2 separate regions of the Homo sapiens genome follow, and region 1 is linked to region 2. Evidence: fine-mapped expression QTL. Tissue or cell type: monocytes. Region 2 holds a variant in brackets; the other region holds the start of a gene. All regions are shown on one strand. Distances are from middle to middle.

Region 1 (5,149 bases), 140 kb after region 2:
TATCCCTGGTCAGTGCAAAATCTACCTTTCATCTAACCGTTCATTGTATATGGGAATAATTACATGCATAAGGTTAAGCAACTTGCCCAAAGTCCCTTCTGATTTTAATACCTTATTATGAAGATTTAATGAATTAAACAAACGTAGGCGCTTAGAATACCTGTCATACAGTAAGTAAATGTTAGCTATTATTTTATTCCTACAACCACTATCTTATATCAGACCCTCATCAGCTTATTCCTAAAATTCTCCATAAGCACTCTAATCAGTCTCTCCACTCCCAGGACACTCAGCTGAAACAAAAACCTTCCTCAGGAACAAGATGCATCATCTTACTCTCATTCTTTAGAACCCATTGTGGTACCCTATCAAACTAAACCCTCTATCCTTGAAAGATCCTCCATCAATACCCCCTCACCAATCCTAAACTCATTTATTATTATTCACCAACACAGATGATCTGACAGTCAAGCTCCTTGATATCATTTGTACATTGCCACTTCTCTCGCTTTGCACAGGCCCCTTCACTCTCCTGAAATACACCTCTTTCCCTTTGGAAATTTGTATCTTTCTCAAATGTCCCTTACACTTTTGACCTTGGTTGTACTGTTATCCCAAGGAGAAGTTTGATGCAGTTTGATAATTCTGAATGATGTACATGTTTCCCGAACAGAAAAAGAAACTCTGTTCTTTCGATATAAGTTGAAGCTTTCCAAGAGACCACGTATCTTATTCGTCTCTTCATACAGACTTCACACATAGATAACTCGGTACTTTACAGAAGTACACAAATGCTGACTTACCAAAAAAAAACAAAAAGCCTCAGTATGTATCAGAACAACATTCTCCATTTTCCACTGCCCCACCCATACTTAGCATAATGAAAAAATATAATCTAAAATCTATATTTAAATATTTTCATTCTACATAGAAGGAAAGGGAATATACGAACTGTACCAGATAAAAGGAAAAAAATGTCAAAAATATACTCAAAGAATGTACAATGTGAAAAAGTGAGAATGCAGGCCACTTTGGAATCTAGTAAGTGACTTTGAAACATTAAGTTTTTTTATTTTACCCAAACTAATGAACAAAAAAGAGCCAAAATAAACACGTTCTAGCCTCATCCAAAAAAAATCTAATGAAAGCATGAGAAACTTCCCAGTTTTGTCCTCGGCAGCACAAAACCAAGAAGATTCACCTCAATTCTGAGACACAAAAGCAAAAAGAGAAATCCTCCTATTTATCTAAGAAACTAAAAAACTTAATCACGTCTATATAATATATACCACTCAGAAAAAGAGAGGAGTTACTGCTTTTCTATAAATATTTGCTAGGGACCAGGAGGAATAGGCTTCTCTCACTGTTATTGCGGGAACAATCTGTGGTCTCAAAACAGCAAAACAGAAGATGGAAACCCTAATCTGGAAGAGACATTAAGAAAAAAACTACTCAAACCATGTTTCAAACCAGTTTCAAAAAAAGAGTGTGCAATGGGTACTCAACAGAGTAAGAGGAAAAGTGAAGTAAAAGAGCTTCTACAAAATAAGTGACTAGGTGAAACTAGTGCTGCCTTGTGAGAAAAAGAGCTATGCATATAACGCTCCTATGACATCACGCTTTTTCACTGGGAAACAAAATAGAAGGAAGAAAACACACACAAATAAATCTCAGAAAAAGACCAAAAAGGTGCCCACCAATCTCTAACTCCTTCAGGAATTAGAGTGAATGGCTCTAACTCATTCAGGAATCCAACCAGGGACAACACAGACGTGGAATGCACCAACACGGAATAGTAAAACCTTTGCTAACCAGACACACAAAAAGTAAAACAGAGAAATGAAAACTATACACCTGAATGCATCGGTAGCAAGCGCTTATTCTCTATAATTAAGCAACAGAGAAAAGAATAAGAGCAGCTAATGGAAGAGGAAAAAAGATGTTAATGAAACTAAGCCCTGTTATGTCCCCTACTGGCCTCAATTTCAGAGTACAACTCTCGATTCTTCATCTAACCAACAGCCGGCCTCGGCAAAGCAAACTGACCCTAACACCTTCCACGCCACCCGGAGGAAATCACAGAGGAAAAACCATCCCGTTAACCTCCCTCCTCACCAGCTGCAAAAATGGAGCTGGGAGGGGGGGCGGGAGACACTCTACCACGTGGGCAGGATGCAACACACACAGGACAGCAACACGTCCGCATGGAACGGCTGCCTTTGCCCTAATCCCAGCAAAGGACACAGACACAGGATGGGCGGGAACGCAAGCACCCTCGCATGGGCCTCCTCTCCCCAAAGGGCCACTCCAAGGCGTGAGGTACAGCCCGCCCTGCCGGCAGAAAAGCGCCCCCAAGCTTAAAGGGAAGAAGCCGCAGAGTGCCGGGGTCGGGGGCTAGCCCAGGCCAAGGGACAGGTCATGGAGGGAAGGAGACGGTCGCTGCCCTCGGACTAGGCGCCCCCGGGATCCACGTCTGGTTCCCCGGTGCCCCGCCTGGGGGAGGGGCGGGAGACGCGAAGCCGCTGCTTCCCAGCTGAGGGGCAGCAGCAGCTGAGAAGCGCCGCGGGGGAGGGAAGGACCCAGCCCTCGGCGTCCGCCAGGCCCCAGCCGGGGCCCAGGCCCCCTGCCCCACCCGCCGCCCACCCCGCAACGCGGCTGCGGCTGGAAGAGAGAGGGCGTCTCGCGGAGGACAGCCCCTGCCTCCGTCCCGGGAGATGCCACAGCCCCGCCTCCTCGCCCGCCGCCCAGGCCCGGCCGCCCTGGCGGGGGGCACTTACCTCAGGCTGCGCAGGCCGGGACGGCCCGGCCGAGCCCCCGGCCGCTCCGTGCGTCTCCGCCCCCCCGGGAAAGGTCCCAACGGTGCCTACTGCGAGCGGTCGAGGCCCCGAGCAGCCCCGAGAGCGGCGGCGGCAGCAAGAGCAGCCAACATCCGGGGCCGCGCACCCGGAACTACTTCCCGACCCGCATCCCCCGCCCGCCCTCGCCGCCACCGCCTCCTGCGGCGTCGCTGCGCCGCCGGCCCGGCGTCAGCGGCGTCAAGTCCCTGCGCGGTCACGGTCGCTTCGACGCACGCAGGATCCCTCCGCTGGGACAAGTAGTGCCCTGAGACTCCCGAGGCTCTGCATCGGCGCAGCCGGTGTCATCTAGCGGCCGGCAGTTCCGAGCGACTTGGGGTCCTTGTGCCTCGGAGTGGCGTCTGGGAGCAAAGGCGGCGGAGGCAACCCCGCAGTTGAGGACAGTAGGGATCGGTGGCTTTGGACCCTGCCCACGGATACCTGGGGCCCCATGCCCCGAAGGAATGGTGCCTTCTGCCCTCCCCCGCCCCCCAACATCCGCCACCTCACCGAAGCGCCCGGCACCTTAGCCTCCTCTCCAGGAAAGCGGACGCCTTTTCCGACCTGGCACACCGCGGATTCCGGGACCCCCAACAAAGGCGCCTTGGACCTTCAGGACACCCCTCTTTTCAGAACTTCATGAGTCCCAGGTGCTAGACTCATGTCTGCGGAGGCCTTTCCCGTGCCTGGTCTTTCTTTCTTTCTTAAAGGAGTTGGACCTCTAAAGGCCCTTCTAATTCTCAAGGTAGCTACCCAGGTTATGGTACTACTATCAGTAGGTGGAGCGTTTAGAAGGGTAGTTTGGTCGACGAGTGAACTTTGGAATTTACTTCTACGTCAGTCTTCACTGATTCTTTCTCTAAACTATTAGCACTGATAATCTGCCCTATAATTTCACACTTAATTACATTCCAGTGTAGTATTTGCTGTTGCTTCATTCGCGTTAGTCACATATTCCCCTGCAGCGCCAAACACGCTTTTGAACTCACAATGGGTGGCTCAATATTTGGAGACTTAGATATTTGTTAGATGAATACTAGGCTGATTGGATGAGAGGAAAAGGAGAGGCATGAGTGAATTGGCCCTGGGTACTTTTTTGACATAGTCTCAAAGGGTTCAGATAAAGACCTCCAGCAGATCTGAGCACACAATTCCTTCAGTAAACATTGAACACCTGCCGTTTGGTCAAGCATTTCTAGGCACTGGAGATTCAAAGTATTCACATATTCCTTTTCTTTATAAGACTAGCAAGATTCTGAAGATTCATGTACTCATTCACTCAACAAATATTTGCCAATCACTACTAAGGTTGCCAGACACTATTTTAGTGCTTGGGATGTATCAGTAAACAGAAGAGAGAGAGAAAACAAATACCCTTCCCTGTTGGAGCTTTCATTCTAATATAAGGAGAAAGATGATAAATGTAAGAGAATTATGTAATATGTTAGAAGGCATATGGGGAAAAAAAAATACACCAGGGTAAGGGGTATGAGGAAAACTGGAGGAAGGGGGTTTGCAATTTTTTTTTAAGAGGGAATCCTGCTCTCCCGCCCAGGCTGGAGTGCAGTGGCGCGATCTCAGCTCACTGCAACTCCCGGGTTCAAGTGATTCTCCTGCCTCAGCCTCCTAAGTAGCTGGGATTACAGGCGCGCGCTACCACACCCGGCTAATTTTTGTATTTTTAGTAGAGATGGGGTTTCACCATGTTGGCCAGGCTGGTCTCAAACTCCCGAACTCAAAAGTGATCCGCGCTCTTCGGCCTCCCAAAGTGCTGGCATTACAGGCCTGAGCCACCGCGCCTGGCCTGCAATTTTAAATAGAGCCGTCAGCATGGGCCTCATTTATAAAATGACTTTAAATCGGAGACCTGAAAGAGCTGAGGGAGTCAGCCATGCAGTTGTCTGGGGAAGAGTGTCCCAGGCAGAAGGAACAGCTAGCTGGTGGAAAGGCCTGGAGACAAAAGCCTCGGGAAGTGTTAAAAATAATGAGAAGGCCAGGACGGTTGGAGCCGTGAGCAAATGGGAGCCTAATGAGGAGATAAGATCAGAGAGAGGGGTCTCAAGTAGGGAGCTGTAGGAATCTTGGCTGAAACAGAACCACTGCTGGGCTTTGAACAGAGGAGTGATAGGATCTGACTCGTGCTTTCAAAAGATCACTCTGGCCGCCGTGCTAAGAGCAGAACTAAGAGGACAATGGTGGAAGCCAGAGGCTCCATTACCCAGGTACAGAATGATGGCTTGAACTAGATAGTAGCAATGAGTAAGATAAATAAGATGCAGTCTCAGCCGGGCACAGTGGCGCTTGACTGTAATCCC
Region 2 (5,149 bases):
GATATACCCTACATATAAATTATTTGCTTTCATTCATTTCTTATAAATAAAAATTTGTAAACAGATCACTGTCACCATTAGCAGCAAACCAAGTTGGTTAAGACAGTTACTAAATTTCGTACGAATGAGAAAATGAGAAAAATCAAGAAGATAACTAACCCCATACCTGTTCCAATGTGTTGGGAAGGTTTTGTTGGATGCATGGCACCATGACAAACATTTTGTTGAACATTACTCTGTGAATGTATAAGGCCAGTTTGTGTAAAGAACTGATTAAGAGAAGAACAAAGATCGGCAAACTGAACCTGGTCTAAAGACCAGTTCTTGAGATCTGCCTGTCTCATACTCTCCATCAGACCTATGAGGAAAGCATTAAAAATATGTTAGCACTGTTATGCAATAAACATTGCAAGGAAAATAGCAAGACATAATTTTTTTCAGCTCTCAAAATTTCCACTCACTCCACTTTATGGTAGTGATTTATCCACGCAATGAAGAATGACCTTTTTAAATTATTCAAAGCCCAATTATTTTAAATGTGGTCAAATTTCTTTCAGAACTTGTCTGTGACCCTCTGCTATACCAAGTGGCCAAAATTATTATGAATTTTACCAACTGCAAAAGAAATGCTATATAAGATGATGTTTATTTCTACTACAAAGAAAGTTATAATCTAGCAGAGAAACAGGATCATGTGTATTTGGTTATATGTCAAAAAGAACCAACACTCACCTTGAAACTGTGAAAGGTCTACATCTGACCAATTAACACTGCTGGCAATTCGACAGCTTTCTTTTAGCATATCAAGTGTCGCATACCAATCATTTGAAACACCTATAAAATATTGACAACAGTGTAATTCCTGGATGGTGAAAGGGTGAAGTGTGGTAAGGGAAAACGATGAGCTGCCCTTATTCCTGAAATTGGCTGATTCTTGTCCCGTCTTACAAGGGGATTTGTACCCATTATATCACGTGTTGGGCAATCTGCTCTGTGAGACAGGCAGAAAGGTATTATTTCTCTCCATTTTACAAATAAAAGAAACTGAACCAGAGAAGTGACATAACTTAGCAAGGTTATCATGATGAATCTAAGACTTGAACCCAGGTCTTCTAACCTCCAGTCTAGCAGTTTCCAAATTGCCACATCACCTAGTAATATCAAACTTGATACTGCTCTTTACATTACAGTACCAATAAATGAACAGATAGGAAATGCCACACAAATCTGTATTTTCCCCTATATAAAGTTCATTTTCCTGTCTTCTTATGACCTTAAAAAACTCAAGAGAGGCAGGTTCACATTTAGAGGCAACACATAGTACAATTTAATGCAATGACTTAACGCAGGTGGATTAGATCATATAGTAAGAGTAAATGCTTCTTCCAAGGCAACCTTAGGAGAAAAAAATTTAACATAGTCCCCCTGCCAAGGTAGCGAAGGAAGAAGGGTGAGATCTCTGCAAGAAATGCTGATGAATCCACGTCAGGGCATTTTTAGTCAGAAATGGTATCCTCTGGTATGACATCAGAAGAGTTTAAGACTCCATAATCTGTATGTCAGCAAACCAGTCATTAGTCAGAGGCCATGCAGCAAGAGTTACCTTCAATGAGACAGCAGTGCTGAATAGTGGAAGAAAATTCTTCATTTCAGTGACTGCTGTCAAGCCACTGTTTCTAGGACCTCCCCCGGATGGATGAAGATAAAGACCAATAAAAAGGGCTGGTTGGTTTGCTTTTGCTACATCAAGGCAACTCTTGGCTATATCAACTACTGGCTACTTGATTACAAAATTCTGCCAATAATGGATTTTTAAAATAAACAATCAACTAGAGACAACATGACCCTGCCATGAAGCAAGTCGTAACTTAGGAAGAAATTTGTTAGGTGGGAGGGGATTAAACTAATATCCAAATGAGCCACGAACATGCAAGTCTACCAGACTCAGATCCTTTAGTTCAAGAAGAACTTCATGGATAAGGAAACCAAGGTTCAAAGGAATTATATGATTTAAGTCACTTAGGTAATACAACAGCCAAAGCAGTACTAGAATCCAGATCTCTTGAGGTAAACACAACTCAGGTAGTCAAAAGGTCAGGGTAGGAAAAAGGTTAACTGAAATGAAATTATGAGCAGGAACCAGGACATTTGCCATGACTAATTTGTTGTTGTTGTTGTGGGTAAGAGGAAGAGGAGGCTCCTTTAATAAATAGTGACCTGGCAAATAAAAATAAAGCAAACTCTGCAGCGACTGGGTGAGCAAACCCTACCCACTTAGCAAATGTCTGCTAATTTTAGTTCTTTTAGAATAACTGGTGTTATAAGCTTTGAAGTCAGACATGTCAGAATATAAACCCCAGTTCTACCACTTACCACAGTATGATCTTAAGCAAATTACTTAAAATTCTTTTAGTTGCACTTTTCCTATATATAAAATGTGGTCATCTATACTTGATTTGGCAGGATAATGTAAGATAATGTATCTAAATTATAAACAAGAGTTAAAATAAAAACCTGCAAGGGTTGCTGGGTTTGCCTATGTTGCCACAATAAATTTTAATCAAGAAAGTCGCCAGGTCAGTCTATGAATTAAATGAGTTACAACTATAGGATTATAGCAAGGAAACAGATGTAAAGAGGTTTTGGTAGTAAATACTACATGAGCTCTAAATAACAAAGGACAGATCCTAATTCACAGTTAGCCAAACACAAACCAGGAGACAAAAACTTACCAGAATTACAGGATACCTGTTGTGGGGGTGGGGGTGCCTGATGTGTTAACGTCTGATGCTGATGGTTCGGATGGTGCTGTATGTGTTGATGTGGAGAGGGATGCTGGGGGTGAGGGGACTGGAGCTGGCTGTGTTGCTGTGGGTGTGGTGCTGGGTGTGGGGAACGCTGCGGATGCTGCGGTAAACCATGCGGTCGATGGGGAGGATGTGGAGATGGCTGTG[T/G]GTGCATCTGGGGGTGAGACAGTGAGACCTGTGCAACCGAATTACTGCCTGTGGTGTTGAGGCCACTGCCATGACTGTTGGACAGGCTGCTTTGGTTGCTGTGTGGGTGAGTGCTCACTGTACTGCTGGGAGAGTGCTGATAGGTACATGAAGTGTGGGACTGCTGGGAAGATTCAGAAGGGATGTTCATCAAACCTAAAAACAAAGCAAGATCATTTATGGTCAGATTTCAGTTGTATTTTATGACAAACATTTGTAAAATTATTAACATAACAAAAGCATATGATGCCAGGAAGCAACACTGGTTCAATTTAATAAGTGTTAATCCAACATCCACTGCACACTAGGCTCTGTGGTTATTGAGAAGAAATATAATGCCCCACCCTCAAGTGGAAGAGAAAGACAAGATTATGACCAACAATTTAAGTACTAAAGCTAAAGTATACAGAGGATTATGAAAACTGCTCCTTGTCTGTTCAGCTAGGAGAAGGCTGAAAATATAGAGAAGCCTTTCTTTTAAAGACAGTGCCTGAACTGAGTCTTGAAAGATAAGGAAATGTTCGGGGAAAAGTGGGAAAGGTGTGGGGGTCACACTCAGGATGGCTCTCTGTAGGCATAAAGACCAAGGCTTTGATAGAAGACCGCACAATCTAAACTAAATCTCGACTGGCTAATAGTTTAAAACTTTTCCAAATAGGTAAAAGTAATGGAAAGACAAAGGAAAAGAGGAAGTTGTTTATGCCAAATAGGGAAGGGGCATAGGCTGCAAGCTGGAACATGCCTGTGAGCACGTCCAGCACAAATATCTCAGTTAAGGTACAAGGACATAGAATGTACTACGTGCCTGTGAGCATGTTTAACAGCTACACAGGATAGGGCCCAACAAAAAGTTATTAGCATAAAGTAAGGAGGCTTAAAGGAAGTTAGTTTTTAAAAGAAACTATTATTTCTAACACTTATGATTTACTCTTTAACAAGAAGGGAAACTATGAAGAGGAACTTTTTACTTTCTACATAGTGAAGGTGTAAGCTGCAGGATGAGCTCTGTAAATGTTAGCTGCCATGATGATGATTAAGCCAAAAATGTTTAATGTTAAGGATAATTTATGTTTGTTCTCCAAGTAGTTAGATAACCTTACTGCAACATTTGGTTCTATGTAACTAGACTATTTTCAAATCCTAAAGGGTAGCCCATGCAATGTTATGCTGAACCAAACATAAAAATAATTTTATTGAATGAAAAAAAAAAACACAAGATAATATCAATCAATAAAAGAATCAAGCTTTTTAAAAAAGATAAAATTATTCTATTTGTCATTAGTAGTAAAACTGTATTTGTGTTCATTGCAAGATAATCTTAAAAGCTACCAAGTTTTACAGGCAGAAGAGTTAATAAAAGTTCTTGCCTTGGTCCTAGAAAATAGTCACATATAAGGAATCTATAGGGTTATTACTGTAAGATCAAAGAAAGCAGTAATTTATCAATTTTCAATAAAATCCTAGCATTTTACAAGGGAACCAAGGTCTGATCTGTATCAACATTTTCAATCTCAAATTATTTTTAAATAAAAGAAAGCAAAATATCTCTCCAGAAGCCCAATATATAAAACTGATAAGTATAATATAGTTTTTTTTTTTGAAGCTGGGGAAGGAAGCTTACTAGGTCTACCTCTGCATCTGCACAGTTCTCCTCCTGCAGTCCCTAAGATCTTTACAAAAGCCAAGGCCTCTGAAGAGAACAATCTGAAAATCACTGATCTAATCCAACCCTCTTTATTGTACAAATGGGGATACTGAGGTCCAGAGATGAGAAGTAAACTCAGTTGACTTAATGGCAGAACCTGGACTAGAACCCAGACTTCCTATCGATGTTCCTTTTTTTTTTTTTTTTAATAGTGTGATGGAATGGAATTATGGGCTTCAGAAATTGTCATCATTGTTATTTCAAAGCCCTTATTTTTCTATTGTGAATACCAAGGTTGGATTTGCTTAGCAAAGTCTTCCATTAGTTCTTTTTATACTTTTATAGATGAAAAATTTAAAAGTTGGAAAACATATGAATCTTACTTTAAACTCAAATACTAACCAGAAAAAGCCATTTCACACACACAACATCAGTATACATCAATATAAATAACAGTATATAACATTAACTGACAGTAAGTATTAAAATGCAAACAGTATAAAGACAAGGA

Which allele goes with the higher level. Positions count from the first base shown, and alleles are read on the strand shown. Sizes are in standard deviations (SD) of each study's normalised expression.
For the expression in monocytes of the gene that starts at base 2,954 in region 1, allele G in region 2 goes with a lower level than allele T (moderate effect, 0.41 SD a copy in BLUEPRINT).

Evidence for each region. PIP is the estimated chance that this variant, and not a neighbour inherited with it, causes the effect.
Region 1: it holds the start of FOXJ3, and the variant in region 2 is fine-mapped to the expression of FOXJ3 in monocytes (BLUEPRINT, PIP 0.91).

The regions. Positions count from the first base shown.
Region 1 is chr1:42,332,282-42,337,430 of GRCh38, forward strand. It overlaps FOXJ3 (forkhead box J3), which reads right to left and starts at 2,954. Exons shown (of 13, transcript NM_014947.5): 1 at 2,778-2,954. RefSeq lists an enhancer at 1,929-2,886 and a silencer at 2,471-2,990.
Region 2 is chr1:42,188,571-42,193,719 of GRCh38, forward strand. FOXJ3 (forkhead box J3) reads right to left here. Exons shown (of 13, transcript NM_014947.5): 9 at 2,733-3,149; 10 at 733-834; 11 at 167-358. Among named protein-coding and RNA genes, the nearest start is that of GUCA2A, 26 kb to the left of the region's middle. The variant T/G (reference allele first, on the strand shown) is at 2,955.